Homo sapiens: one gene and its partner. The protein of the gene in region 1 interacts with the protein of each later gene in a pairwise test. Each region holds a gene or a part of one and is shown on either strand. Other genes may lie near its edges.

Evidence for each region.
Region 2: the proteins of NFYB (region 1) and MAOB interact in a two-hybrid assay, tested with the Homo sapiens proteins (one large-scale study listed by BioGRID and IntAct).

What each region holds. Positions count from the first base shown.
Region 1 is NC_000012.12:104,128,115-104,131,939, forward strand, and holds part of NFYB (nuclear transcription factor Y subunit beta), read right to left. Parts: intron 3,725-3,825; exon of another isoform or gene 3,649-3,724; coding exon of another isoform or gene 3,640-3,648; intron 2,776-3,639; exon of another isoform or gene 2,697-2,775; intron 404-2,696; coding exon 310-403; intron 1-309. UniProt on the Homo sapiens protein: Component of the sequence-specific heterotrimeric transcription factor (NF-Y) which specifically recognizes a 5'-CCAAT-3' box motif found in the promoters of its target genes.
Region 2 is NC_000023.11:43,875,626-43,879,450, reverse strand, and holds part of MAOB (amine oxidase [flavin-containing] B), read left to right. Parts: intron 1-3,825.

The DNA of each region.
Region 1 (3,825 bases):
ATCAATTGATTATAAATTTCTTATTTAACATTTAAACAGGAAGTCGATAACAAATTTTAAAAGAAACTGTACAGATTTTAGACAAGGTGTATTTTTATAGTAAAAGTCTTTTCAAGGACTCATTCTTTTGAAGACTATTTCTAATAAAAATAGCATGGTACGCCTTTTTAGACTTTCTCATTGAACCGTAACACAAGATTGTAAATTTTCCTATAAAGACACAAGTAGCCTAGAACACCATATTAATGAAATGTCCACTTTCTAACTTGCTTCAACTTGAGAATTTGGTTCTAATTGTGGCTTGCTTACCATCATGAGGCTGTATAACATAATGACTTCCTCCAATATAGTCTGCAGAGATTCCTAGTTGAGAAGCATCTGTTGTAGAACTGTCACCATCCATCTATGAGGAGAAAAACAGTTTTTCAATACTTTTCAAAGTACTAACAAACGTAACAGATTCAACACTTATAAACTGTCACAGGATGATGCATCAATTATACTTTTCATAGCCTTAAGCTTACTAAAAGAGAATTTATATTTCTTTTTTAAAAAATTAATTATTTTTTTGAGACAGGGTCTTACTCTGTGGCCCAGGCTGGAGTGCAGTGGCGTGATCACAGCTCACTGCAGAATCCACCTCCCAGGCTGAAGCAATCCTCCCACCTCAGCCTCCTGAGTAGCTGGACTACAGGCATGCACCACCATGCCTGGCCAATTTTTTTGTATTTTTAGCAGAGACAGGGTTTTGCTATGTTGCCCAGGCTGGTCTGGAACTCCTGGGCTCAAACAAACCACCTACCTCAGCCTCCCAAAATGCTGAGATTACAGGCATCAGCCACCGCAACCAGCCTATATTTCTTGATTTGGAAACTTTCCCACAATTTGTCCACGATTCAAGATTTCCCTATCCATCTTCCATAAGTGATATAAGCATAAGGCCAATAGCGACAAGGAAATGAATCTAAAGCATATGCCTCTTTCTTTTTAAGTGCATAATCTTCAAATATAGTACCACAGGCAACCCTGACTTACAACCTAATTTATCCCTGGAATGATGATCAGCTTAGTAAAGCTGTACACAGTGTCATGTACCTGTAGCCCCAACTGCTCAGAAGCTGAAGCAGGAGGACTGCTTGAGCTCAAGAGTTCCAGACCAGCCTGGTCAATGTAGTGAGAACCTGTCTCTTAAAAAAAAAAATCAGCTTAAGTCATCAACTGGAATTCACCTGTATCCATCACTTCCAGCTCTCCTGCTAAACCCTGATTTTCCTTTTGCTCCTGCTTGCGAACTTTCTTTGCTTTCTCATAGAAGTTCCAAAATAGACAATGTCTCCGTTCAAACTGTTACTTGGTATAAGAAGCATGCGGATTCTCTGCACAATTCTGTACCCAGGCAAGCCAAAAGTACACCCATGTTTTGAATGAACCCATAAACTCCTGATTCTAGTCAAAGGTTAATTTTCTCTCCCCCTGCCAAATCAGGGCCAGGTGTGGCTCATGCCTGTAATCCCAGAACTTTGGGAAGCCAAGGTGGGAGGATCACTTGGGCCCAGAAGTTCAAGATCAGCCTGGGCAACACAGTGAGACCCTGTCTCTAAAAAAAAACAAAAATTAAGAAATTAGCCAGGCGTTGTGGCATGTGCCTGTAGTCCTAACTACTTGAGAGGCTGAGGTGGGAAGATCACTTGAGCCTAGGAGGTTGAGGCTGCAGTGAGCTGTGATCACACCACTGCACTCCAGCCTCAGTGACAGAGTGGGGTCAGGAGGAGGGGTCAGGAAGATCTATGTATAAAGATAGGAAAATTACCTGCACAGACAAGAATAAGAGTTAAAATTCCTATTTTAAAAAAAGCCTGCTTAATTAATTTTGCTGAGAGCTAAAAGAATTCCAAGAGGGAAAGTCTGGAAAAAAGTAAATCATAAGCCCTGAGCTGGCTCCATTCAATTTCACCAACATGGCAGATCCTAGAAGGCTTTCTGTTTTGCAAATACTACTACTCAAAATAAGATATCTGTGAGTGAAAAAATGTTAAATGCATTATCTGAATAAAAAGTATAGCAAAAATCAAGTGTAATTCATACATACTTTCAGGCTGAACAAAGAAATTTGACCCTTCATTAAGGCCCAGGACCCAGTATAAACTTAATGTTATTAATTGCAAAATTTTAGTCCTTGTATAACACATGTCTTCTCCATCTCTGTTGAATTTTTATTTAATATTAAAATACTGGGCTAGTTTCCAGGTCTTCAATAACACGGCATTTCTTTCATGCATCTGTTGACTGTGATGCCTAATATAACTGTAGATAGAGACACATTTCTATAATTTATATAGTTGTTGTAAGGGGGTAGAAAATAGAATTTACAGACCTTTAATAATCTGTGAACATAGGGTACCTATTTGATACTTTTAGTAGCCTCTAAGAAGTAAACAACAAAGTCAGTGACCTGATTCTGACTCTCCTACTGATCCCCTGAAAATAAGCATCCCTGCCAATTAAATGTATTTCCATATAAAATGTAAATAACAATACCACCCTCCCCATCTTAAACTAACACAAATAAATGTGAAACAGTGCCCAAAAATCAAATGCTATTTTGATCTTAAAATGCTAACATACTAGGAGAGTATCCTTTAATAGACATGATGGATTTTTTTTTACAGCCATAAAAGAATGATCAATTATGATACCTGTGAGTTGACTAGCTTTTACAATAACCTAAGGAAGATCAAGGTGCAGGAGACAGGACCAAAGTGGTTGTTTCAGAGCCTACAATTGGAAACAAACTTTGGTTGGGGGTGGGGAGGGCAGGCGGTGGGTTGGGAAGAATAACAGAAATTCTTTCCTGAATGAGTGTTTACATGATACCATTAAGTCTTTTAAAATTGGCTATGAGCAAGACACTGTTCAAATAACCAGGCGGATCTGGGAGATGAATTAATTTAGAAATATAACACAAACAAAAGTATTAAAGGAAAAAAGTTTAAATCATATTATCTTGTCATGCACTGGAATTAGCAACATGATTATCATTTGGACTAACAGCATTAGCCTCGCTAAACCTCAGTCTTCTAAAAGTGAAGATAAAAGTATTTCCTAGAGTTGTCAGAATTAAATAAAGACTAGAAAGCTGCTAAAGACAGTGTTTGGCACGTAGTGTACCCCACAGACATTCGATCTCATCCTCCCTCCTTTGAAGAGAAGCCGCACATCATCTGCTTAACTGTATGTGTCTTCAGTTCTGCAAGTTTTAGCTTTCTATCATTTCACGCCTTCTGTCTTCCTTTCCTCTGTCTTTCTACCATTAAAATCCTGCCCCAGACTTTAATCCCAGTGTTCTCTATCCTCCTTTAATCTTTCTGATTTATCCTTTCTGCAATTCAAAAACAAATGTTCTGTTCTTTAAAGCTCTATGGCACTTAGTACCTTTCACTCAATAAGTCAACCTAATCTTTGATGCTTAGAATATGCCAGCCATTCGCCTATATATAAGAATGATGGAAAAAAACTTGCTAGATGCATCCCAAAGGTTTTTTCTAGGTCTAAAACATCCTATAAAAACTTATAAAACAGACTGTAGATTGTCAGTAAGCCAGCCAACAAATATTTACTGAGTGAGCGCTTAGTATTTACCAGGTTCATGCTATGTGCTGGTCACGTAGCTGTCAACAACAGACAAGGTCTCTGTCCTCAGCTTGCAGGACAAATGTTACATAACCTGGGAGGCAGGGTGAAGGGGTAGAGAACAGAGCCTATTAGTCCTTCCAGGACACAGGCTCTGGAATCGAATCACCTAGTTTGAATTCCCTGCCACTTACC
Region 2 (3,825 bases), on another chromosome or scaffold:
TAGGTGACCAACACAATGATTTATGTTTAAAAGTCTCTGGATTTGACTCTGCGTTCTAAGCTTTGTTAATTATTAAACTTGGGACATTCTGGCAATTCCCTGATAATTTTTAAAGCTGTCAGCAAATTTTAATCACTCCCTTTGGGATAAACAGAGACATACTGGGAGGATAGCTGGTTAATACATAACTTTCTTTTTTGATGTTTTAAAAGTTCCAAGATAGTTGTAGACTAACTTTTTAGAAATGTGTATGGTGTATAAATGAGTATGCACTGAAATCTCTTTTACCCAAGGGGCAGATCATCTCCAGAGACTTGGCAGAGCAATGACATCTCCCACATGGAACTGGACAGCAGCACGTTGCATCTGTCCCGCGTCTCTCAGTTTTAGTGTTTGGGTGGGTGGAACCATGGAAACTATCTTTTGCAATTCTGGAATAGTTCTTGTTCAATCCCCAAAATAAAAACTAAAAAAGGCAACTTGAAGCAGAAACAAGAAAGTTTTGGCCAGACTTAGGAGAGGAGATTTGGTCATTTGAGGGTGGCAGGCACTTGTTTGAGATCCCTGGAAGTGTTGGAACCAGACTTCCAAATTGTAACCAACACCTGGCAGGTGATCTTTGTGGCAGGGAGAGCAAGCCTGGCTGCAGGCTAGTGGTACTGGCTTTGGCAGGGAATGTCAGAGATGGCTCACAAGGGGTTATGAGTTGAGGTGTGTGGTGGGCAGATGTGGCCCATATGTTAATGGCAAAGCCTCTTTCTCACCTTTGGTGAAGAAAAATGGAGAACTTCCCTGGGCTCCTGTAACCCACTTGAATGTCCTAAAAAATAATAATTATATAGATATGCCTGAAAATTTGTATATCCTAGTCAAGGAAAGAATACACAGAGGTAATACAGCAATATTAAAAGAACATACGATTTATCTTGGAAGGTTGAGACGGGAGGATTGCTTGAGCCCAGGAGTTTGAGACCAGCCCTGGCAACGTAATGAGACATGGTCTCCACACACACACACACACACACACACACACACACACACAAAGGCTGGGTATAGAGGAGTGCACCTGTAGTCCCAGCTACTCTGGAGGCTGAAGTGGGAGGATCACTTGAGTCCAGGAGCTCGAGGCTGCAGTGAGCTATGATCATGCCATTATACTCCAGCGTGGGCCACAGACAAAGACTGCCTATAAAAAAAGACTGGGAGGGGGAGAATAGGCTTAGTGTCAAACACACTAGTTATGAATCTCATTTCTTATGCTTACCTATGTGGAACCTTAAAAGGTACATAACCTCCCTGTATTTCAGCTGCCTCATCTTTAAAATGAGACTCATAATGCCTTCCTGGCCGGCTTGTTTCAAGGATTGGAAAGAATGCACATGTAGGACCATAAACAGTGATCACTTCGGCTTTGGCTTATAGGTGCCTTACTCTACCTTTTTGGAAATATATCCTTGTTTGTCCTGTAGAGTTTTTCAATCTAAGGGAGCAAAAACAGGCATTTCTATGTAATCACTTCTTTTCACCAACCAATAATTTTTCTGGATGTGCAGCATAGATAAGGTGGCAACAGGACGCCATGTATACATGTGGGCATCAGGAGAGACTCGCCTGACTTCAGCCTCATCCTGGCTCAGCCAATTCCTTTATCCCCCCGCAAGGGGCCTGAGGAACTCAGGCTCACTTTGGGCTCTGAGACCCACTGGGTTCCGCTTCAGGAGAAATTCTGGAAGTCTTAGATCTGTACTTCAGCCTCACCTCAACCTGGCTATTATTCCAATTCTGATCTGGTCTTCATTTCAGCCATTTGATTCCTGTCTTAACTACAATAGAAGATAAATGCATTAATAACAAATGATATTATTTATTTAATAATATTATTTAATAATAAATGATAAAAAGGTAGCATATCAAGCGTTATCTACATGCTGTACAAGGTGTTAGGAGCTTGATTAGAATGACAAAAGCTCTGTGAAGGTTAAGAATGACAAAGCCTTGTTCTTTCTGCTTGATTCTAACACCCCTGGGACACAGTGTTGGGGCCGGTTGGTGGGCTGTGTGAGTAGAGCCAGTTGCCACTAGAGTCACAATTTCTAGGCCCCCATGTGTCCTCAGAAGTCACCAGGGCAGGTTTAAGGCTTGGCTTGGCATTGACAATGGTCACAATTTTCTTCTCCTCTGACTGGGTATTGAGGTCTAGGCTCCCTGCCATACATTCAGGGGCAGTGGTGGAGCATAGGGGTTAAGAGCATGGTGTCTACCCTGGTTCCACCACTAACTAGCTGTGCCACCTTGGGCAAAATAGTTAGTTAACCTTCCCATGCCTTACTTTTCTCATTTGGAAATGGGGATAATAATGGTATCTATTTCACAAAGTGGCTGAGAGAATTAAAGGAGAAAATACATGTAGAGTGCTTGGAATGTGGCTTGGCATTTGGCAGGCACACAATAGATATTGATGATTATTGTTCATCAGGCTGACAAAATGTCCACTAGCAACTAGTGGTCTGAAGTGCCAGTGTGCCAGCTTCCTCACTGTCAAACTTTGGGCTGAGGAAGTGGTTTGTGGCTGTGCATTTGAATGCACTGACACACACACACACGCGTGCATGCACACTCGGAGAACATTAGCCTGTAACAGAGATTCTGCTTCCAAGCCCTGTTTTCTTGGCTTGTATATGATTTACTAACACAGATGATGTGAGAAAGTCAGCAGCTTAATTTAAACAAAAGGCTTTAACTCTAATTATTTTAATATGTATTTTAAGAGATAAATATGTCAGAAACTATAAATGCAAAACATTTGTATACGAAGAGGAAGGAAGATAACACAGCTGTTAAACACAAAGGGCATTGGAGGCCTGGGACTTGGGCTCAAATCCCATCTGTTCCCCTAAATGTGGAGCTTGGGCAATAGGGGTGGCAATAGTAACAGGTTAGTTTTTTTGTGGAGTTCAATTACAGATGATTTTCATTTTTTTCCATTTTCTGTAATTTACAGATTTTCACAACAAATATGTATTATTTCTGCAACTCACGTTTCCAGAAACACCATACTCTTCCCTCTCCAAAAAAATTCCTCAAAGTATAAATCACCATGATGGAATGTGACTGCATCTTTCATTTATATCAGTGGCTTTTCTTCTTAAAAATATTTGAGGGAATTTTTGTTATTAATAAGTGTGGTTATTGGCCAGGCATGGTGGCTCACACCTGTAATCCCAGCACTTTGGGAGGCCAAGGTGGGTGGATTGCTTGAGGTCAGGAGTTCAAGACCAGCCTGAACAACATGGTGAAACTCCGTCTCTACTAAAAATACAAAAATTAGCCAGGCGTGGTGGCGCATGCCTCCAGTCCGAAGCTACTTGGGTGGCTGAGGCAGGAGAATCACCTGAACCTGGGAGGCAGAGGTTACAGTGAGCCGAGATTGTGCCACTGCCCTCCAGCCTGGGAGACAGAGTGAGACTCTGTCTCAATAAATAAATAAATAATTAATAAATAAATGTGGTTATTAATTCTTCAATTTATCCTTCTGCAAAAGATGCCCTGCTAGATATCAAAAGCTCTTTCAAAGAGCTTGTCTCTTCAATTTGTCTTGGTACTTCTTCAGCCAAGTTTCTTCAATTTTTCTTGGTACTTGAAAAGCGGGTGAGTGTTCCTGGGCTAACTCCTAGAATTCTCAATAAATGTTAACTTTGTTATTTGTACAAGTCACTGGGCAGTACTCAATTGAGGGCACCCTGGAATCATGCAAGATCGAATACCCTTGAAGGGTGCAAAAGTGAGCCAAATTGAGGGGCCACGTTCAGGTGTAATATGTGTCTG